Linked DNA regions of Homo sapiens: region 2 is linked to region 1. Evidence: fine-mapped expression QTL. A gene starts in region 1. The other region holds a variant in brackets. All regions are shown on one strand. Distances are between the middles of the regions. Region 1 holds the start of DEPDC7 (DEP domain containing 7). Region 2 overlaps TCP11L1 (t-complex 11 like 1).

Region 1 (11,763 bases):
AAGTGCTGGGATTACAAGCATGAGCCACCACACCCGGCAATTTTCCAATTTTCTTAGGCAATTAAGATATGTGTGTGCTCCCGTTAGAATGGCGATCATTAAAAAGTCAGGAAACAACAGATGCTGGAGAGGATGTGGAGAAACAGGAACACTTTTACACTGTTGGTGGGACTGTAAACTAGTTCAACCATTGTGGAAGACAGTGTGGCAATTCCTCAAGGATCTAGAACTAGAAATACCATTTGACCCAGCCATTCCATTACTGAGTATATACCCAAAGGATTATAAATCATGCTGCTATAAAGACACATGCACACGTATGTTCACTGCAGCACTATTCACAATAGCAAAGATTTGGAACCAACCCAAATATCCATCAATGATAGAATGGATTAAGAAAATGTGGCACATATACACCATGGAATACTATGCAGCCATAAAAAAAGGATGAGTTCATGTCCTTTGTAGGGACATGGATGAAGCTGGAAACCATCATTCTCAGCAAACTATCGCAAGGACAAAAAACCAAACACCACAGGTTCTCACTCATAGGTGGGAATTGAACAATGAGAACACTTGGACACAGGAAGGGGAACATCACACACTGGGGCCTGTCGTGGGGTCGGTGGAGCAGGGAGGGATAGCATTAGGAGATATACCTAATGTAAATGACGAGTTAATGAGTGCAGCACACCAACATGGCACATGTATACATATGTAACAAACCAGCATGTTGTGCACATGTACCCTAGAACTTAAATTATAATAAAAAAAGATATGTGTGTGCTGTAATAATCAGAGAGTATCAATACAAGCAGGAGATGAATAGTAATGCATTTGATAAGTGCCACAGGTGCTCAGAGAAAAAAAACACACCCGGGTAACCTGGAAAAATCTGTCCAGGGAAGAAAGTGGGAAAAGGGATAGGCATTTCCTATCCCATGGTTGTAGAAAGTATCTGAGTAGAGATGAACATTTCAGCATTCCAGAAGAGGTAAACAATTATTGCATAACCTGGTGAAAAACTCTCTGAAATGTTATATAAAGTATCAAAATGGTCACTGAGGTCACCAAGCTTTTTCAAATATTAGTGTTTTTCAAGATTTGTCTTCTGAGACAGATGAGCTTTTCCCCCCTCCCATGCAGTGAGGGAGGACTTGTGTGTTCATTCAGTTATACAGCACGGGATAAAGTTCATTGGTATACTGGGTGCCTGAAACCAGCCCTGAATGCATCCTCTTTCTGTGTGTAGCAGCCAATTGAGAGATTACAAAGAAAATCCTTAAACAGAAGTAAAGCAGGGTTTTACTACCATCAGGGGAAGAGGTCACATTAAAAAAAGGTTGCCAACTGGTTGGCAACCTTTTTTTTTCTTTTTTGAGATGGAGTCTCACTCTGTCATCCAGGCTGGAGTGCAGTGGCACAATCTTCGCTCATTGCAACTTCCGCCTCCTGGATTCAAGCGATTCTCCTGCCTCAGCTTCCCAAGTAGCTGGGATTACAGGTGCCTGCCACCACACTCGGACAGTTTTTGTATTTTTAGTAGGGGTTTCGCCATCTTGGCCAGGCTGTTCTCGAACTCCTGACCTCGAAGATCCCCCTGCCTCGGGCCCCCCAAAGTGCTGGGACTACAGGCGTGAGCCACCGTGCCTGGCCAGCTTTTTCTAACACTAAGCAGCAGCAACTGGCCCCCACCTCCCACCCACAAACCCAAGTCCCCAGGGGCAGCTTCTTAGTATGTATTCTCTGAAACAATCCCATGTAGAAGCTCTTTCCAATAAGCTAAATAATGAACTCCCACTTAAACACCATTCTAATTTACACCTAAATCACACAAGCATCCTCCTTCTAAGAAGACGTCATAATCGTTTTGAAAATCATTGCAAAATTCCCAAACTTGAAAAAAAAGAAAAAAAAAAGGGCAAGTGTCTGGCAATTGGATTATTGGTCTCTAAGACCACTCATCCTTTCAGAGGTATCCAGCATTGGATCCCTGGCCTGGCTTCAACTTCCAAGTAACTAAGATGTGTCCCATTAATAGCCCTTCCTCCTTTTCTCTCCTCACCTTCACTCCAACCGGCAGCAAACTGTCCCTACCCACCCGACCCACAGTTCCTTTGGAGGCAGCACAGATTTCCTGGCAGCCAGTCCCAGGGTCTTTCGTTGCTGCCCTCCTGTGACCTCTAGACATTGCTCTCCTGGGCCACATAGGATTTGTTTGTTCTGCACAGGTAGGGATGTCTGAAAAACTCGATTATTATTGTTATTATCACTATTACTACTACTACTATGACATAATTTTAAGCACTTACGTTCCGGACGCAGTTACTAAATGCTGAACCTGAATTGGTTCCTATAAACCTCGTTAAAAAACAAACAAACATCTCAGTGAAGCAGGTACTAAACCTACCCCCGCATCACAGGTGAGGACACCGACGCACAGAGCAGTTAGGCAGCTTGCCAGGTTCCCGACTTTTTCTATTTCTTTTTTTTTTTTTTTTTTTTTTGAGACGGAGTCTCGCTGTGTCGCCCAGGCTGGAGTGCAGTGGTGGATCTCGGCTCACTGCAACCTCCGCCTCCTGAGTTCAAGCGATTCTTGTGCCTCGGCCTCCCGAGTAGCTGGGATTACAGGCGCCTGTCACCAAGCCCAGCTAATTTTTGTATTTTTAGTAGAGAAGGGGTTTCGCCATGTAGGCCAGGCTGCTCTCGAACTCCTGACCTCAGGTGCTCTACCTGCCCTGGCCTCCCAAAGTGCTGGGATTACAGGCGTGAGCCACCGCGCCCGGCCTGGTCCCGAGTTAATCTACGGCAGGCCGCGGTTCGAATCCCGCTGGTGTGAGCCGCGGGCCGCGTAGTGCCGGCCCAGGGAACCGCTTTGTCCCCGACCACCGCTCGCGTGGCATCGCGCCCGAGGAAACTTGGATCGCTGGCGCCGCGGGCTACGTTCAGTGGTTGCCAGAGAGACACGTGACCGGCAGCGGGGGCGGGGCCTGCAGGGAGCCACGCCCCGCACAGTTAACAGACGGGCGCTCAGGGAGCTAGGGAGCTGTGAAGCTGCTGGAGGAGTTGGCGTCCGGGGAGCAAGGGCCATGGCCACCGTGCAGGAGAAGGCTGCTGCGCTGAACCTCTCGGCTCTCCACAGCCCCGCGCACAGGCCTCCGGGTAGGTGCCGAGGACTGCCGCCTGGGATGGCGCGGGGCGGGCTGGGGTGCGCGGGCTGGGTCCCGGCGCGGGGCGGGCGGCGTGGGGCGTTCGGCCGCCTGCGCCTGTCAACGGCCGGCTGGGCGAGCACAGCACAGCTGCGACCACTTGGCCAACGCCCCCGCCGAGCGGGCGGATCGAGTTCCTCTCTGGCTGGTGGGCTGCAAGCGGCAGAGCCCGCCCGCACAGCCCAGCTTTTTTCTTTCTACCCAGACTCTCAACTTGACCGCGCGTTGGTCTGTGCGCCCGCTAACGTGCCAGGCACGCGCCGGGGAGCTCCGGGATATGCTCCGCGGTGCTACCGGTGACAAGTGTGGTATCTGGAATTTGTGTAGTTCTTTGCCCCCTGTCTCAACCACAAACCTTGACGACACAGTATGGCCAGGGGCCGAGCTCCTCCCTTGCCCACTTTGTTCTCCAGACTGCTAGGAGTCAAGAGTCAGCTTGTCTCCCCAGACTCTTCCTGGGAGGGATGAGAGGTTTATGTGAGTTCTACTGGCAGGAATTTGGCATAAAAGGTATTTATTAACACTTTATGTATAAGCAGTATTTTAGTGAATAGAAGTTTTTGGCTAAAAAAACAGTTACATGAAATTAGGAGGGAAGTTGGCAAATTCTGCCACGGGCCTAATCGTGTCTTTTGGGGGCAGTTGATTTAGGATTCTGGTTTCTTTAAATGTTCAAACACATGAAGAGAATCGGATATCACTTCTAAAATGCTGGTTATAGCAGATCTACAACCCAGTTAATAGGGGTGACTCAGATAACTGTTAAGATACTCAGATAACCCTTGGCTTTTTTCTTTTGGTTAAGTTACAACTTTTTCCCCTTTCTGGAGCTCCAGTCTGGGATGTCGTAGGAATTAGTTCCCTTTCTGACAAAAGCCTTTCATTTGTAAAAACACCAACCAGTGAAACTGTGATTCCTTCCTCTGGGTCAAATGGGTGCTTCTCAGTGGCCCCACTCTTGTGTTTGACTTACTCACTAATGCTCATTTTAATCTTCAAAATGCTAACGACAGATTATGGTAGAGAACCATTTTTCACTTGTCCTTTTCTAAGAAAAATCATAATATTGACCTTAGTCTGCTTCCATGTAAAGGATTCAGGTAAGCACATAGTGGCCACATTGAGAATGTCTCCTTGATTTATGTTGTGAAGAGAAGACAAATGCTAAGACATTTGGGAATTTAAAACCAAATGACATTGAAAACAGTCTTGAGAAATCTTTTGGGCCCACTTACTCAGTGAAGGAAATTCCCAAATGTCACCTGCTTAAAATAAAAACATGGTACCCTGTTTTCTCTAATAGCTGAAATACCAATTCTGGAGCTTTGGGCATTTGTGAACAGGTTCTTAGATGGTGTAAGGAAGTATGTATTCAGAAATTAAGTAGATAACTCTCTAAGGGAAGAGTTGAAGTGCTGGTTATCAGGAATCAAAGGAACACTGTCCTCGGCACACTAGCTGCAGTGGACGGAGAGGGGCCCGCTGTTGTTCTCACTCGTTTTGCTTGCTACCGCTGGAATCCCGACCTGGTAACATTTGTTAGCCTTTCTTTCACCCTTTAGTTGCCTTGTCATAGTTCCAGTGAGCAAGGTAGTGGGAGCACACGGTTATTGGTTCTTTGCCATTCTCTTTCTGTGTGCTCTGGCAGGCAGCTTTGTACTTTTGTTTCTCCACCGATTAGTAACTCTCACTTACCTTAAAGGGGCTGTAATGACCAGGGACCTGATTTATGTACAAGAAATGAGATCTATATGCCAGTCTTCAGCCAGTATGTCAAAAACACTTGTCTTTTAATACGACAAACAAGAAAGTAGTCTGTTATCCTGTTATCCCTTTATACTGTAACCTAATTCTTTGAGTTTGCCTGGTATCACTTTTCCAGGGAGCTCAAAGTACTTCCCATATGCTGTCTCATTAATGTATGTGAATTAAAGCAGAGACCAATGTCTGCTTTTGCTGATAATTCTCGTAGATATTGTAAATTTTTCTTGTTGGTAGACTTCTTTTACCTACCTGCAGCCTTCTTTTCAGAGGCAATCGCAGTCTTCAGCATGACGCCTCTAATGCCAACTAGCAGGAAAATAAACTTTGGACTACCAGAACCAATATCCAGTAAAAGTGTTGTAATCTTGGGATCATAGTATAGAAAATTTTTCCACTCAGTCACAACTGTCAAGTTTTAACACCATAAACACAATTCTCTTTACATTTATCTATTAATATTTTCATGAGGTTTTGGTTACTATCCAACAAATGTCCTTTTTCTTTGTTGTCTTGACAATTCTTTGTGTGAGTAATATTTTAAAACCTCTTTTGAAAAAATCTTTCTTAAAATTCTCTTAAATCCTAAATGGTCTAGGATTTATAGATGTGTTATTTTCTGATGAAAAGTTAAATCCTCTGGTATGTGTCACATCTTGTCTTCTCATCTCCTGTTGGCCTTTATGTGATTGAATACTATTCAGAACTTGACATTATCATCCAGGTAGTAGGAGTAAATAAAAGGTAAACTCCTAAGGTTGGGGACTGTGTCCTCTGAGTTCAGAGGAAGGAAGAGGAAGAAAGATACCTCCCTTTTCTTTCTACTTTTAAAATAAAATTTTAGATTCACTAAATAGTATGGTCCATTTGTCATAATTAATGAACCAATATTGATACATATAATTATTAACTGAAGTCCACACTTAGATTCCCTTGGTGTTTGCCTAATGTTCTCTTCCAGGATCCCATCCAAGATATTATATTACATTCAGTTGTCATGTAATGAATCTACTCTTCTAGACTGTGACAGTTTGCTCCTTTTGTTTTTAGTGATACATCTGTTAATTTCTGGACATTTTGCGAGACACATTAACATATTGTCTCATGATCCTCGCAATGAGTGAGAGAAGTGGAGTTAGCTCTGTTTTGCAACAGAAAAGTTAGGCAGTTTGCCCAAGATCGTGTTATTAGTAAATGATGGACCCAACAACGGAACTCAGGTCCCTGGGACTGCAGAGTCCACACTGGTCTAACTCTTTGTAGTCACAGCACCTAGCACTGTGTCTGCTGCGTTAACTCAAGTTTCCATGTCTGAACAGTATTCAGTCAACCCAAGGTTTCTTAACCTTGGCACTACTGACGTTTTCTTTGTTGTGGGTGCTGTCTGTGCATTGTAAGATGTTTAGTAGCATCCCTCTACCCACTGGATGCCAGCAATACCCACACTCATTGTGACAATCAAAAATGTCTCCAGACATGTCCTGTTGGGGGTATAATCACCCACTGAGAACCACTGGGTTAACCTTCCTTTAAAAATTTTTTTTATGAACGGGGTGTAGTGGCTCACACCTGTAATGCCAGCACTTTGGGAGGTTGAGGCAGGTGGATCATTTGAGGCCAGGAGTTTGAGACCAGCCTGGCCAATGCGACAAAACCCCATTTCTACTAAAAATCCAAAAATTGTCTGGGTGTAGTGGCGCACACCTGTAATCCCAGCTACTCAGGAGGTTGAGGCAGGAGAATCGCTTGAACCCAGGAGGCAGAGGTTGCAGTGAGCCGAGATCACACCACTGCATTCCAACCTGGATGACAAAGTGAGACTCTGTCTCAAAAAAGAAAAAAAAGTAAGTTTTTTAGTAGTTAGCAATAATTAACAACTAACAAATATTGACTAACCAATTGTATTATATTGAGGCAATCTGTAAGGCAATTAAATAATTTAAACCTCTGTAAACCGCTAGGAAATCTGAAAGAAATCGGGCACTAGCTCACCATCTCTTAAAAGTTTTATGGAGAAACATCAACTGTCTGGATTCAGTTCCTTTTTTTTTTTTTTTTTTAAGTCCAGTCTAAAGACCGAGAATGGAAACAAATTTGTTATATGTTCATTAAGAGGTAGTGTGTTTTATTAATTCTGTGTGTATGTTTACCTTACATTGGGATCCAATTTTATAATGTGTATATTGATCTACTTCTAAAGATTTAATATAATCTTACTATTTGAAGTGATTATACAATTGTTTTCCCTTTAAATAGGTTTTCATAGGTTTTCACAGTAGGACTAGGGTTGCTGACAGGGTGGATTATGGTTGATGCTGATTATCCCTAATTTTTGGGTAAATGTAATTTCTTTACATTTTTAGGGAATTATTATGACTCAGTTATTTAGTGTGAATTCTTAGAAGTGAGGATGATTATTACTGGTACTACACGTATATATAAGTGTTCAATATTATCTTAGAAGTTTAACTTTTACTTTTGGTAAACGTTTTTTATGGTAGAGTTCAAATACATGTGAAGGGCAGCTTTTGAAAAATAGCTATTGTTTTCAAGCAAATAAGGATGAGACTGCTTGAAAAATGAAGGTTAACTAGCCTAGATTTATATAGTGCTTGAGACTATGTGTTGAAGGCTAGATAATCAAATTATTCCTGAGCCTCCTTAGGCAACCTTCCAAAAGGTTTTGTATCTGGTAGGGTCAAATTTGTCCATATGCTTCCTTTCTTGCCTATAGATCTGCCATATTTGGTGTTCAATGTCCTTATCTAAATGGAGGAGATATAATTTCAGTCTTTACATTCCTATAATCAGTTTATTTAAAGACAGGATCTCACTCTGTCACCCAGGCTGGAGTGCAGTGGTGCGATCCTAGCCCACTGTAACCTCGAACTCCTGGCCTCAAGCAATCTTCCCGCCATGGCCTCCCAAAGTCCTGGGGTCAGAGGCATGAGCCACTGTGCCTGCCCTGGCAGTTTAGACCTGAAACTAACCTAAAATATTGTGTTCAACTATTTTATCAGTAGATAAAGAAACCTACTTACAGAGATTGTCTCTTATCCAGAGTTTTTACAGCTGATCTCTAAACTCTTTGATTCCATTTGTTATGATGCTTTTAGAAAATGCTTGACCAGGCTGGGTGTGGTGGCTCACACCTGTAATCCCAGCACTTTGGGAGGCCGAGGTGGGTGGATCACGAGGTCAGGAGTTCCAGACCATCCTGGCCAACATGGTGAAACCCTGTCTCTACTAAAAATACAAAAAAAAATTAGCTGCACGTGGTGGCGCGTGCCTGTAATCCTAGCTACTTGGGAGGCTGAGGCAGGAAAATCACTTGAAGCAGGGAGTTGGAGGTTGCAGTGAGCCAAGATCGCACCACTGCACTCCAGCCTGGCGACAGAGTGAGACACCATCTCAAAAAAAAAAAAAGAAAAAAAAGAAAATGCTTGACCAAATGTAAGGAAGCATCAAGATGTAGATAGTGATGGATTTTAAAAGGTTGTTTAGCTCATATGAAAGTGAGGTTTGAGGACAAGCTGAACCCTTAATTCTGATTGCAAGACTTAAAAAACATTCATTGTCTATTTTTGGTCTCTTAAATCCTGTTTAGAAATCACAGTAAGTCATCTTACTGGGCCATGATCTGCTATACCAATATTCATTTCAGCTTTTAAATGACGATAAATAAGTTTCAAACCATATATGTTCAGCTGGTGAAGTCAGCATTTTAAAAAGCAGGTTATCCTGGTATGGGTTTTGGCACATTTACTTGTCAAGTCCAGGGTACATTGTGTATGAAAGCATCTGTATGAACATGAGCTAGTTTGTGGGTGGTGGTGCTTGAAGGGAAATATCCCAGGATGCAATGGTTGGGAATTAATGGTCAGTGAGAACAGAGGGGACCTGTGAGGGCTGCATTGTATCATGCCTGGAGGACTCTGGAAACCTGTGGTTCACAGGTGTCTACTCTCCTGCTCTAACTAGTTCTTTAATCTTTTATGCAGTGTTATACAACCTGCAGAACCTCCTGATTTCCCACAAGTTAATATGGGGAAATTTATTCTTTACCTCTTAATTCTTCTGTGAAGATTAGCCTTTTCTACTCATTGAGGCCAAATATCCCCTCTCACCGCCCTCTTCAGCTGTCTTACTGATCTGTAATTAATAAGTGACTCAGCCTTGTCATTTAGGATTTGTGTGCTAACCTACTTATAGCTCAAGTGTTATGACTTATGTGTTTCATCTTTATATTATCACTAGTCCAAAAGTCTGTCTCATTGGTTCTTAAAAGGCAGTCTGATTGAAGTTTGAATCTTGCATGTCTTCCTTTTCCTGTCTTACCCTGTGTACTGTGGTAGTATTTATTACAGAATTTATGATATCCTGCCTTATTTTATGAGTAGTGACTACTGTTTTTAAATAGCTTGGTTAAGGGTTCTTAGAGTTTGTTTTATCTCTTGGCTCTCTTAAAGCTGTTTCACTTAATCCAAGTTTCCAGTGAAAGGTTAATGCTTAAACAACTTATCTGATGGCTGACTTTTCATATATTTATGTTTAAGTACTAGGAAACACTAGTATATATTTATCAGCTGTGTAACTGTGGGCACATTTAACTCACAGAGCCTCAATTTCCTCAAAATAGGATTATTAATAATCATTTTGCAGAGAAGCTTATCAGAATTAAATGCGAGAAGACAGAGCCTGTCATAGTGTAAATACTCAAATGTTAGCTATTAATAATAAAGATTTGAAAAATTAAGCAGAAATTGTTTATTTTAAATCTTATTTATAATCTCTGGTATTTTAGGAAGTTAAGAATATTAGTCGCTAACAATGTTTAGGCATTGTGGCTGGAAATAGTACAACTACTCCTGAGTTCTGGATACCAGAAATGACCTGGACTTACTCTGAGATTCCATCAAATGCCTCATTCTTGCTCTGTTCAACAGAGACTAAATACTGTACCAAGAGTAGATCTAATTCCAGCTTGATTTATTTAGTCAATTCTCCATAATTCAGTTCCTGAAATAGCTCACATTATATTTGGAAGACTGGCAACAATTACTTCCATCTTTGTTTAGTACTGGCTTATGAAATATCTTCAAATTTAAAATACAATTTTGACAATTAAAAACAATCTTGCTTATTTTGGGAGGCCTAGGTGGGTGGATCACGAGGTCAGGAGATCGAGACCATCCTGGCTAACACGATGAAACCCTGTCTCTACTAAAAAAAAATACAAAAAATTAGCCGGGCGTGGTGGCGGGCACCTGTAGTCCCAGCTACTTGGGAGGCTAAAGGTGGGAGAATGGCATGAACCCAGGAGGCGGAGCTTGCAGTGAGCCGAGATCACGCCACTGCACTCCAGCCTGGGTGACAGAGAGGGACTCTGTCTCAAAAAAAAAAAAAAAATCTTGCTGATCATTTTAAACCAACGTTATAATAATGGGTAGGTGGTAAATTACCCATCTACTTTTGGTATTAGAAATATACAAATAAACAATAAAGGACTGTGTATTTGTGTATATGCTATTCATTTTCACTATAAAGATGTTTAAATTGCTAGTAGCTACAGAATTATGCTACAAGTGAAATCAGTGTAGTGGTTCAGTGTACTCCTTATATTTATTGCAACGTAAGAGATGAATTTCAAATGACCCACTTATAATTTATGGCTCTAGTGCACTAAGAGGAGTTTTTGTTTATTTATTTATTTATTAGACGGAGTCTTGCTTTGTCGTCCAGGCTGGAGTGCAGTGGCACTATCTTGGCTTACTGCAACCTCCACCTCCCAGGTTCAAGCAATTCTCTGCCTCAGCCTCCTGAGTAACTGGGATTGCAGGTGCCTGCTACCACGCCCGGCCAATTTTTGTATTTTTAGTAGAGAGGGTTTCACCACCTTCGGCAGGCTGTAAAGGAGTTTTAATAATGTCCTTCAGGAGCTTATCTTATGCTTTCTTCATCTTAAACATTCTATTTTGCCTAAAAAAGTAGGAAGATAATTTCAAGTAGCAATTTCTTTAATTATAATTCCCTTTTTTCCTTACCATTGTACTCATGCATATGGTTTTCCTTTCTAGACGATCTTAAAGGAAGTAATAACTTCACCTTCTCTGCCAAAATATCTAAAAATAAAGGAAGTAATATACTTAACATAAATGGGGGCTTAAATTAAGACTGCTGAATTTTCAGAGGATCACTGAAAAGTGTAACACATTAAAGGGCCTACTCTTTATGAAAGGAAAAAAGGGAGGGAGCCAGCCAGCCACCAAGTGAGTGATTCACTGGAATCCATTCCATCGGTTTACAAAAACCCAAGACCTGATTTCTTTCCTATTGATTTCCAAATATCTGCTAATTACAATGAGGAAAAATGTGATAGGATATTTTTGAAAGTTTGTTTTTCTCCTTTTGTGTTTGGCAAAAATCTTGCTTTCTTCTGTGCGTACTCTGTCTTTGCAATAGGTCATAAGCTCCTATAGGGCAGGAACCAAATTGTTACTTTACCGCGCATACAAAGTATTTAACTCATAAGCCTGCATAATAGGAGGCTTTAAAAATATTAGTTTATTCCTGCAATGATTGTGTGTATCAATGTGTATGTGTGTGTGTGTGTATACAATCATGCGTAGTGTAATGACGGGGATATGTTCTGAGAAATGTGTATTGTCAGGTGATTTCATTGTTGTGCAAACATCATAGAGTATAGTTCCACAAACCTTGATGGTATAGCCTGCTACACACCTAGGCTATGTGGTGTAGCCTGTTGCTCTTAGGCCACAAACCTGCAGAGCTA
Region 2 (11,811 bases), 32 kb after region 1:
CAGTGGTTGCCTCAACTCACGTCTTTTATGAAGAGTACCTTAAGCATTTTGAAGTGAGTCCAAAAATGCAAGTTTTTAAGAGGGAATGTCATAGTCTAAGAATGTCGGTATTGATGTTATCCCTTTAAATTGTAGATGATCAGTAGTTGTACGTATTTGGAAAAAGTACAGACATTTTTGGGTTTTGGGGTGTGTTTCTTCTAAAATGATCAAAGCCCTTCCCGGGCAATTTATTAGTCAACATACTATTCTTCTAGCAAACATTAATGGACCCTATTTTATTCTGATTTATTATCACATAGATTTTAATAAATCAACTATTAGGTCAAATTGTGTCCAAGGAAACATGTTGTTGCTAGCACAGTCTATCATGCATTTGTCAGGCCTGACTCCAATATGTGTAGTTAGAAAGCTTCTGTTTTCCTGTCTTTAAAATGAGGAAAATACAATATTTCTTGGGGTAGCAGTAAAGATTAAATGAATTCCTATAAGGCACTTAGAACAGTGCTTCACAGGTAATAAATGCTTAATAAACATTAGTTGTTGTTACTACTATTGCTACTAACATTATGTCATCTATTGCATTTAAAGATGCCAGGATTGGCCAGGCATGGTGGCTCATACCTGTAATACCAGCACTTTGGGCGGCTGAGGCAGGAAGATCACTTGAGTCCAGGAGTTCAAGACCAGCCTAGGCAACATAATGAGACCCCATCTCTACAAAAAATAAAAATTAGCCAGGCATGGTGGTGCATGCCTATAGTCCCAGCTACTTGTGGGGCTAAGGCAGGAGGATCACTTGAGCCTGGGAGGTGGAGGCTGCAGTGAGCCGAGATCACGCCACTGCACTCCCGTCTGGGTGACAAAGTAAGACCCTGTCTCAAAAAAAAAAAAAAAAAATTAGCTGAGCATGCACGTGGTTGTAGTCCCAGCTACTTGGGAGGCGGGGACAGGAGGATCACTTGAGCTGGGGAAGTCAAGGCTGCAGTGAGCCGTGATTGTGTCACCGCACTCCAGCCTGGATGACAGAGTGAGACAAGCCTCTCTCAAAAAAATAAAAATAAAAAAAATAAAGAGGCCAGGATTGATTGCTGTAATGTAGATGTATATGGCTAACATGATAGCTTTACAACCTATAGTTTCTGCTAAAGAAGAACTTTTGGTTTAGGTCTTCAGTCACCCTTTATTGGTTGGTTGGTTGTTGGGATGGCCAGACCCAACGTGGAGGTGACGAAGTCCAGTGGAGTCAAAAGAATGAAAAAGACAAGTTTAAGAGTGCATAAAGTGGGTCCGGGGGCCAATGCTAGTATGGAGGCTGCGAAGGCCCCGAGCTCTGGAAGCCTGCACTATTCATTGGTGATGAAACAAAGAAGCAGGTGGTGAGGATGTGGGGGTTGAAAGAAAGCAGTGTATCAAGCACATGATCTACAGCTGTGACGGTTTAGCATTTTCTTTGCAGCATATGGAACATGTTCTGCTACTTGAGATAATGGGAAACATGTTCTAGTTTAAGATACAATAGATCTATGAGCCTAGGAGTGCTAGAAGCAAGGAGCCAGCAAGTCTAGACACATTCCAGAGGCCACGCCCTGAGCCCTGGATTCCATTCAAGCCACGAAGGGTTTTATGCCCTGGGCTTAGATTATGGTGCTGCAGGGCAGCCTTCTGCCCTTTAGCACAGAGCTTGGTGTTCCCAAGGCCATGAGGGGTTTTAGACCCTGGACCCTGGACATGTTCCAAGACTCTTTTACATTAAGTGAGACATGCAAGCCCTGCTTTAGCTTCTCCCAACAGTTGGTTGATTGGTTTTAATTTTTTTAAACAATTTTAACTTTTATAGGTTCAGCCATTCTTTGGTTGATGGCTTCGCCTTTGGCATCTTGTCAGCCTGATGGCATGATTCCAAATTAATGTCAAACCAGTACTAAGCTACATTATCTGAAATTGTGTGTAGTTATGCCCTTAAGGCAAGAATACTTATCCTGGGACCTATGATCAAGATTTAGGGGATCTAGTAATAACCAAAAAAGTATATCAACATTTGTTTGTATATGCATGTTTTTAGGAATAAGGTCGTGGAAGCTTTCATTAAGTTCTCTTAGTAGTCTGTACCAAAATAAGGTTTAAAATCAATGCCCTAAGGTATTCCTTTTGGCTGCCTTCCTATTTCTCCTGTAGTGCTAGGTAGGTACAGGGCTATAAACCCAAAAGATAAAGCTAAGACCTCATTATCTGGGCATCAGGTAAGGAAGCATTATTGAACACATAGAGCATAAATAAGGATTTACAAAATATGGAATTAACAGTTTACAGACATTTCCCCCAAACTCTGTAAATTTGTAGCTACTGAGTTTAAAGTAACTCTAAAATCATATTTGGAATTCTACAAATTAAAACGTAAGTAGCAAAAAGAGAACATTTATTGTTTTAAATTATAACACAGAGTAATACTTTAAGAGTGGAGTTGCTAGGCCAGGCGCATTGGCTCATGCCTATAAGCACTTTGGGAGGCTGAGGCAGGTGAATCACCTGAGGTGAGGTCAGGAGTTCGAGACCAACCTGGCCAACATGGTGAAACACTGTTTCTACTAAAAATACAAAAATTAGCCGGGAGTGGTGGTGTGTGCCTGTAATTGGGAGGCTGAGGCAAGAGAATCACTTGAACCTGGGAAGCAGAGGTTGCAGTGAACCGAGATTGTGCCATTGCACTCCAGCCTAGGGGACAAGAGCGAAACTTCATCTCAAGAAAAAAAAAAAAAGAGTAGAATTCTGATGTAACCGATGCAGAATATTGAAAAAGGAAAAATGGCTGGCTTGTAAAAAATTTATTGGTACTGATTTGAGGTGGTGATTTGATTGTAAAAGATTATCTGTTCTTTAAACAGAGTAAGGATCAGTCAACTGTAACTTAACAATGTTTTCTCTAAAATCTTCTACTACTTATACTTTAATGCTCTTCTCACAAAATACCCTCTGTTCTAACGTTTAATCACCTAGTTGACCAGTAAAAGATGCTATATTCAGATGACAAACATCAATTGTTATTCCAGTTAATATCTCCCACTTAGGACCTTTGTTTATTGGATCAGGTCCTTGTGAATTTAATTAGTAGATCCCAGTCATCTTTAGATGAATAGATGACACGAGAACTTACATTTCTAAAGCTCATGACTAGACTTTGAATTATGGTGTCTCTGTATTCAGTCAGTCAAATATTTATTGAGTGCATACTGTATGTCAGGGATCCAGCAGTGAACCAGGCACATATTGTCTCTGTCCTCATGGAGCTTGCAGGCTAGCGACCAGGAAGACAAATTAACAAGCAGTTTCCAACAACATAATAAGTACTATGGGTAATCTGTACCCTGGTTTTACTGTGCTCATTCTATAGTAGCTGTTTGGGTGACAGTTGCAATCTTGCCCTCCATAAATGTCCGTCCACTTATGTAACTAACAGCATCTTTTCAGAGTGTATAGGCATCTCAGGACACCTTAGTAAAGATAGAGAGTACAACCATTCTAAATTAGAACTTCATTTTATTTTGGAATCTGTCTGCCAGCCTCTCTAAAGTCATGTTTAACCTAATATGGTTTTCAGTTTCTCTAACAGGGCATCAGTGCGCAAATGCTGTAACAAAATAACAAAATTTAGCAACAACTTTAGCTTTGTATCACGTAAGATAAACTCCAGGGTAAGTTACATGTATCTTTACATTTTTTTTTTTTAAGACCGGATCACTCTATGTTGCCCAGGCTGGCCTTGAACTCCTGGGCTCAAGTGATTCACCCACCTCAACCTCCCTAGTAGCTGAGACTACAAGTGTGCACCACCATGTCTGAGTTGACCTTACCATTTTTCATGGCTCTTATTACAACCCAGGTTCTCTTAACAAATTGAGGTGAAGACGTGTTGTCCACCAAATTGCATCTTTATGCAATTTTATGCAATCCTTACCAAGTTTTCATTTATGAAATTGGTAAATTTGAGAACTCTCACAAAACAAAATCCCCACAACCCTATAATTTGTATGCAGTGAATAATTCCTCTGTATGTACATCGGTAACATGTCCTGATCATATCTTAGAACTGTAGCTTTTATCTATCATGATCAGATACCTGTCATTGATAAGTTTGATTTTAAGTAGTCTCTTAACTTGGACAGTTCCTGAAAATTTTCTTCTTCCTAATGGTGAGGTTCTTAGTACTTGGTGCAAGCTGTTTTTTTCCAAGTATGCCCAAAACACTGAGAATGCACTTGTTTAAAATTCGGAGGATTCTTATATTTCATAGCACACCCTTAAGTCTCTTCTTTTTGCATATGGAGAAACACTGACCCTGCAAGATTTAAGTGACTTGTTCAAGGCCGTACTCAACAGAGTCCAGAGGAAGTGAAATTCCTTCCTGATTTGCTCCAGCCACTGTGTTTCATGACTAGGCAGCATAGTAACGGTGCCTATTATTACCCAGATGACTAAAATTATTGGGAAATAACAAATCCGGCCAGGCGCGGTGGCTCATGCCTATAATCCCAGCACTTTGGGAGGCCAAGGCAGGTGGATCATGAGGTCAAGAGATCAAGACCATCCTGGCCAACATGGTGAAACCCTGTCTCTACTAAAAATACATAAATTAGCTGGGTGTGGTGGCACACGCCTGTAGTCCCAGCTACTTGGGAGGCTGAGGCAGGAGAATCACTTGAACCCGGGAGGCGGAGGTTGCAGTGAGCCGAGATCGCGCCACTGCACTCCAGCCTCGTGACAGAGCAAGACTCCGTCTCAAAAAAAAAAAAAAAAAAATTCACCCAGAGGACTTGATGTGATGTATTTCTGTTGTTTTCATAAATTTCAGATGGTAAGACATTGATTATTTTTGAAGGGGTGGCCTGCCCCTCCACAACCTGTGGGTGTTTCTCGTCATGTGGGACGAGAGACTGAGAAAAGAAATAAGACACAGAGACAAAGTATAGAGAAAGAAAAGTGGGCCCAGGGGACCTGCACCCTGTCTCTGAGTTCCCTCAGTATTTATTGATCATTATCTCTACCATCTTGGAGAGGGGGTTGTGGCAGGACAATAGTGTAATAGTGGGGAGAGGGTCAGCAGGAAACCTGTGAACAAAGGTCTCTGTGTCATAAATAAGTTTAAGGAAAGGTACTGTGCCTTGATGTGCACGGATACAAACTTCTGGGTGCATTAAAGAGCAGTATTGCCGCTAGCACCTCACCTCCAGCCCTAAGGCAGTTTTCTCCTATCTTAGTAAATAGAACATACAATTGGGTTTTACACCAAGACATTCTATTGCCCAGGGATGAGCAGGAGACAGATGCCTTCCTCTTATCTCAACTGCAAAGAGGCCTTCCTCTTTTACTAATCCTCCTCAGCACAGACCCTTTACAGGTGTTGGGCTGGGGGATGATCAGGTCTTTCCCTTCCCAGGAGGCCATATCTCAGGCTATTGCATGGGGAGAAACCTTGGACAATACCTGGCTTTCCTAGGCAGAGGCCCCTGCTGGAGGGCCTTCCGCAGTGTATTGTGTCCCTGGGTACTTGAGGTTAGAGAATGGTGATGACTTTTAACAAGCATACTGCCTTCAAGCACTTTTTTAACAAAGCACATCCTGCATAGCCCTAAATCCATTAAACCTTGAGTCAACACAGCACAGGTCTCTGCTGTGAGCACAGGGTTGGGACAAGGGTTACAGATTAACAACATCTCAAGGCAGAAGAATTTTTCTTAGTACAGAACAAAATGGAGTCTCTTATGTCTACTTCTTTCTACATAGACACAGTAGCAGTCTGATCTCTCTTTTCCCCACAATTTTTTGCAAAAGCAAGGTTAAAAAACTTGGGAGCCCTAATAATCTCTGAGTTTCTTCTTAAGGGGTAAGACCTTGGTGGAGTTTAATAACACCTGATGCTTGATAATAACACCTGATGCTTGATAATAACACCTGATGCTTGATATTGATGTACCCACAGTGGAAGTTTCATTTTCTGATAACTGATAACAGAAATAATTTAAAAATAAGCATATATTTATACATATGTATATATACAGGAGATCCCTACTGAACTGGGTGTGCACCTATAGTCCCAGCTATTTGGGAGGTTGAGGCCACAGTGAACTGTGATCACCACTCTCCAGTTTGGGCAACAGAATAAGACCCTATTTCAAAAAACAAATAACAAAAAAACCTTTTTATTTTCTTAATAGAGTCTATCATGGAATGTACATTTTAAATTTTGATAAAATCCAAATTATCCATTTTTTATTTTGTAGTTTGAGTTTTTTGTATCCTATCTAAGAAATCTTTGCCTAATCCAAGATCGCAAAGATTTCTATCTGTGATTCTTTTTTTTTTTTAGACAAGGTCTCTATCTGTCACCTATGCTGGAGTGCTGTGGCGGGGTCATGGCTCACTGCAACTTCTGCCTCCTGGGCTTAAGCCATCTTCCCGTCTCAGCCTCCTGAGTAGCTGAGACTACAGGAGCATGCCACCACACCTGGCTAATTGTATTTTTTGTAGAGATGGGGTTTCGCCATGTTGCCCAGGCTGTTCTCAAATTCCTGGCCTCAAGCAATTTTTGCACCTTGGCCTCCCAAAGGGCTGGGATTACAGGCATGAGCCACCATGCCCCGCTCTGCAATCCATTTTGAGTTCATTTTTGTTTATCATTTGAGAGAAGGATCTAGAGTAATTATTATTAATTTTTTTTGAGACGGAGTCTCGCTCTGTCGCCCAGGCTGGAGTGCAGTGGTGCAATCTCAGCTCACTGCAAGCTTGGCCTCCCGGGTTCACGCCATTCTCTTGCCTCAGCCTCCCAAGTAGCTGGGACTACAGACACCTGCCATCACGCCCGGCTAATTTTTTGTATTTTTAGTAGAGATGGGGTTTCACCGTGTTAGCCAGGATGGTCTTGTTCTCCCGACCTTGTGGTCCGCTCGCCTCAGCCTCCCAAAGTGCTGGGATTACAGGCGTGATAGAGTAATTCTTTTACATATAGATACTTAATTGTTGTAGCACCATTTGATTAAAAACAAACAAACAAACAAAACTATCCTTGCTTTTCTTTTTTTGAGACAGAGTATTGCTCTGTCACCCAGACTGGAGGGCAGTGGCACAATCTCAGCTCACTGCAACCTCTGTCTCCTGGGCTTAAATGATTTTTAGTAGAGACAGGATTTCGCTGTGTTGTCCAGGCTGGTCTCGAACTCCTGGCCTCAAGCAGTCCACCTGCTTCAGCCTCCCAAAGTACATGAGCCACCGTGCCCGGCCTATCCTTGTCTGTTGACCACCTATATATATATGTGTGTGTATATTAGTCTATTTCTGGATTTTCTGCCCTGAATTTCTATATATCCTTATGGGAAAAATACACTGTCTTGTTATAGTTTTATAATAAGTCTTGAAATCAGTGTCAGTCCTCTAGCTTTATTTTTCTTTTTCAAAATAGTTTTGGCTTTTCGAGGTCTTTTGTGTTTCCCTATACATTTTAGAATTAGTTTGTCAGTTTCAACAAAAAAGCCTTCTGATTGGGATTTCATTTAACCAATAGATTGATTTGGGGAAAATTGACATCTTAATAATATACCCATAGAGGGGAATAAGAGACACTGGGGTCTACTGGAGAGTGGGAGGAGGGAGAGGATCAAGAAAAATAATGAGTACTAGACTTAATAACCGGGTGACAAAATAATCTCTACAACAAGCCCCCGTGACACGAGATTACCTGTATAACAAACCTGCACATGTACACCTGAACTTAAAAGTTAAAAAAAATTTTTTTAATTGAAAAGATATATTGGGCTTTGATTTTGGATATTTACTATATTTTAGCAATATCAACAAAGCCAGATTTATTTATTCTGTATTCTTATTCATATTCTTTGGAAATGCTGAGAATGTTGTGAGGAAGAATTCTGAGTTTTCCCAACTTCCCCTTGTGACCAAATAAAGTTTTTTACCAGGCAGGATATGACCAGCTCTTCGATTTGGTTCCTTTTTTTTTTTTCTTTTTTTTGGTGCGCAAAAGAAAAAGGAAAGAAAATAACTTTTCACCAATGTAAGAAGATCTTTTAAACCTGGGCAAACCAGTGACATTACTTATCTAATTTTAAGGCCAGATCTTATCACTATCACATAAAATTAATATATTCATCTTCTAGGCCAGTACTTCTCAAACTGTGGTGTTTGGAGCCATCAGCATCAACTGGAGACTTGTTAGAAATACAGATTCTGGGCCGGCTGCTGTGGCTCACACCTGTAATCCCAGCATTTTGGGAGGCTGAGGCAGGCGGATCACTTACTTAAGCTCAGGAGTT[C/T]GAGACCAGCCTGGGCAACATGGCGAAACTTGTCTTTAAAAAAATAGAAAAAATAACCAGACATGGTGGCATGTGCCTGTAGTCCTGGCTACTTGGGAGGCTAAGGTGGGAAGATGATTTGAGCCTGAGAGGTTGAGGCTGGGGTGAGCCATGATTGTGCAACTGTACTCCTGTTGGTGACAGAGTAAGACCCTATCTCAAAAAAAAATAGAAAAATAAAAAATGCAGATTCTTTGGCCCTGCTCCAGAGCTGCTAAATCAGAAACCCTGAGAGGTGGGCTCAGCAATCTGTTTTCACAAGTCCTCCCTCTGACTCCATGATAGGCTAAAGTTTGAGAATTGCTATCAGAGACTTTTTTTTTTTTTTTTTTTTGAGACAATCTTCCTCTGTCGCCCAGGCTGGAGTGCAATGGTGTGATCTTCGCTCACTGCAACCTCTACCTCCCAGGTTCAAGCAATCCTTTCGCCTCAGCCTCCCAAGGAGCTGGGATTACAGGCATGCACCACCACGCCCTGCTAATTTTTGTATTTTTAGTAGAGACAAGGTTTCACCATGTTGGCCACGTGGGTCTCCAACTCCTGACCTCAGGTGGTCCACCTGCCTTGATCTCCCAAAGTGCTGGGATTACAGGTGTGAGCCTTGCCTTATCATAGGCTTTTAAGAGTAAGAATTCCCCTTTGTTCCTTGGTTTAGAACCTTCTTTCTGAATGATCAGTCTCAAGCTTTATCAAAAGAGAAGTATGGACACAAATTTTGAGGCCGTTGCAGCAGTCGATACAGAAGTAAAATCTACAGGACTTGGATAACAGAGCAGGGGAAAGAGAGAAATCAGAGATGACTCTTTTTCAAAGTTTTTGATTCACTGGATCAGCATTCTAGAAAATTCTTGTGTCACACATCTTTTGATCTGTCCATTGACCACTGCAGAGCTATCATATTCTGTCACAGTATCCTGTACAAGATAGTGGTTTTAGCATTGTTTAAACAGCACCATCGGCACCCTAAAGGACTTGATGGTATTTTAATTTTTTACAACTTTTTATTTTTATTTTTTTGAGACAGAGTCTTGCTCTGTTACCCAGGCTTGAGTGCAGTGACATGATCATAGCTCACTGCAGGTTCAAGCGATCCTCCAGCCTCAACCTCCTGAGTAGCTGGGACTACAGGCATGCACCACCATGCCCGGTTAGTTTTTACATTTTTCTGTAGAGACAAGATCTCACTATGGTGCCCAGGCTGGTCTCCAACCCCTGGCCTCAAATGATCTCTCGCCTCGGCCTCCCAAAGTGCTAGCATTACAGGTGTGAACCACTGTGCCTAGCCTTGATGCTATTTTAATTTGGGGAGATTCATTTGTGGCAGTGTTAGTGGTAGTGCAAAAGTAAACTGCTAATGGGAGCAAAAGAGAAGATCTTAAATCTGGTGTCTTCTTTTTTTTTTTTTTCTTTTAGGGTAGACAGGAGGCAGAAAGACTAGAAAATAAACCCTCAGCTTATGGGACAGATGATCATCTGTAACTTAAGTTTTCCTAGGTTTCAGTTTACTGTAATTATTTTCCTTTGACCAGTCTTAGTAAAAACCAGATGTTTTGAGTATTAATAAATGATCTCTGCTTTTAGGATTCAAGGGTAAAAAATGAATATGAAGTAACATTCTGTTGCTGTTTGAAAATGCCAGAACAAACATTTTAATAGACGCAATAACTGAAATTATTGTCTGGTACCAGAACCACTGTTTTCTTATTTTAGTAGAAATTCAGATCCAGGGAAGCAAATCTCTTACAGTGAGTTTCTGTTACAGCTAGTCCTCCTCGCTTTGTGACAGTAGAAGAACTTCTAGAGACAGCGAGAGGTGTCACCAACATGGCTCTAGCCCATGAAATTGTAGTAAATGGAGACTTTCAGATTAAACCAGTTGAATTACCAGAAAACAGGTAAGGTGGTTGCTAAATTATCTTGCTTAGTAGAACACTGTCATTTCCCAGTTTTGAAAATGTTTCCTTCAGTTGATACCAATATATTCAAACGTATTTTTCCTTTTGTACATTATTGCTAAAAAATATTCCTGAACAAGGAACAACCTAAAAATCAAATAAAAGCTCTAAAAATCTTTTGTGAAAGTCTGCCTACTCAGTAGGATCTAGCTGCCTCATCTTGTGTTTTCATTGCCTTGTTTCATTCACTTCTTTGAAACTATCACACTGCACTATAGTTGTTGGTTTCATCGCAAAGGCGAAGACTGTGGGTTATTCTCTGTGTCCCTAGTGCCTGGCACTTAACCATTTTTTTATTGAATCAAAAACTCTATTGGTTGTAAGGTGCACCTTTTAAAAATGTGCTGTCATAAGAAAGAGGAAACACTGCCCATTATAATTATAAAAATGCCATTGATTTTAAGAAAGATCCAAGTTTCTGAGAGATTAAAATATTGGGGAGGGGGGAGTTTGTTTTAGAATCAAGGAAATATGCGTGCAAGTGCCTTTCTGTCAGCAGCTCACCAAAGTCAGGATTCTGGATGGTGCCTGAGAGTCTCTTAGCCTGTCCTCATGGTTGCAGGATGAATGCTGCAGCTCCAAGCATCCCATAATACATCAGCCTTCCTGGCAAGAGCAAAAAGTTTGGGAGGACTAGGGCTCTCCTTTTGTTGGAGAGGAACATCTTCCCCTGGAGTCATGAAACAGACATCTGCTAATATTTTGTTAATCAGAATTTAGTCACATGCTACCCTTGCTATAAGTGAACCTGGAGAGCTTAAGTTGGCTAAAAGGGAATGAACTGCTGTGATGGGCTTATTAGATTAGTCATGATTTATTGTCACAGGCAGAGTATATTGTTGCCCTGAAAAACACTGGGATTCTGTTAACAAAAGGAGGAGGAATGGCTGCTGTGCTGGCAAGTGTCTCCCACAAGAAGCTTCTAAATATGACTTCACAGAGATTTCTTATATCTGCAAAGATGGTACTTTTTTGCATTTAATAGTGAAGAATTGCTTGTTTTGTGCTCAAGACAGAAAGACATTTTTATTGTTGTTGTTGTTGTTTTTTGAGATGGAGTGTCGCTCTGTCGCCCAAGCTGGAGTACAGTGGCATGATCTTGGCTCACTGCAACCTCTGCTTCCCAGGTTCAAGTGATTCTCTTGACTTAGCCTCCTGAGTAGCTGGGATTATAGGCGTGCGCCACCATGCCCAGCTAATTTTTGTATTTGTAGTAGAGACAGGGTTTCACCTTGTTGGTCAGGCTGGTCTCAAACTCCTGACCTTGTTATCTATCTGCCTCAGCCTCCCAAAGTGCTGGGACTACAGGTGTGAGCCACTGCGCCAGCCATTGTTGTTTTTTGAGACGGAATCTTGCTCAGTTGCCTAGGCTGGAGTGCAGTGGTGCAGTCTCAGCTCACTGCAGCCTCCATCTCCTAGGTTCAAGCAATTCTCCTGCCTCAGCCTCCTAAGTAGCTGGGACTATAAAGCATGCACCACCACACCCAGCTAATTTT

Evidence for each region. PIP is the estimated chance that this variant, and not a neighbour inherited with it, causes the effect.
Region 2: its variant is the best candidate, but not a certain one, in a credible set for the expression of DEPDC7 in whole blood (TOPMed, PIP 0.73).

The regions. Positions count from the first base shown.
Region 1 is chr11:33,012,867-33,024,629 of GRCh38, forward strand. DEPDC7 (DEP domain containing 7) reads left to right here and starts at 3,012. Exons shown (of 9, transcript NM_001077242.2): 1 at 3,012-3,162. The coding sequence starts at 3,090. It overlaps LOC105376615 (a long non-coding RNA gene), which reads right to left and starts at 2,924. Exons shown (of 4, transcript XR_931167.2): 1 at 2,411-2,924. RefSeq lists silencers at 2,857-2,906, 3,227-3,286.
Region 2 is chr11:33,044,471-33,056,281 of GRCh38, forward strand. TCP11L1 (t-complex 11 like 1) reads left to right here. Exons shown (of 10, transcript NM_018393.4): 3 at 10,123-10,255. Among named protein-coding and RNA genes, the nearest start is that of TCP11L1, 11 kb to the left of the region's middle. RefSeq lists an enhancer at 5,391-5,891. The variant C/T (reference allele first, on the strand shown) is at 8,322.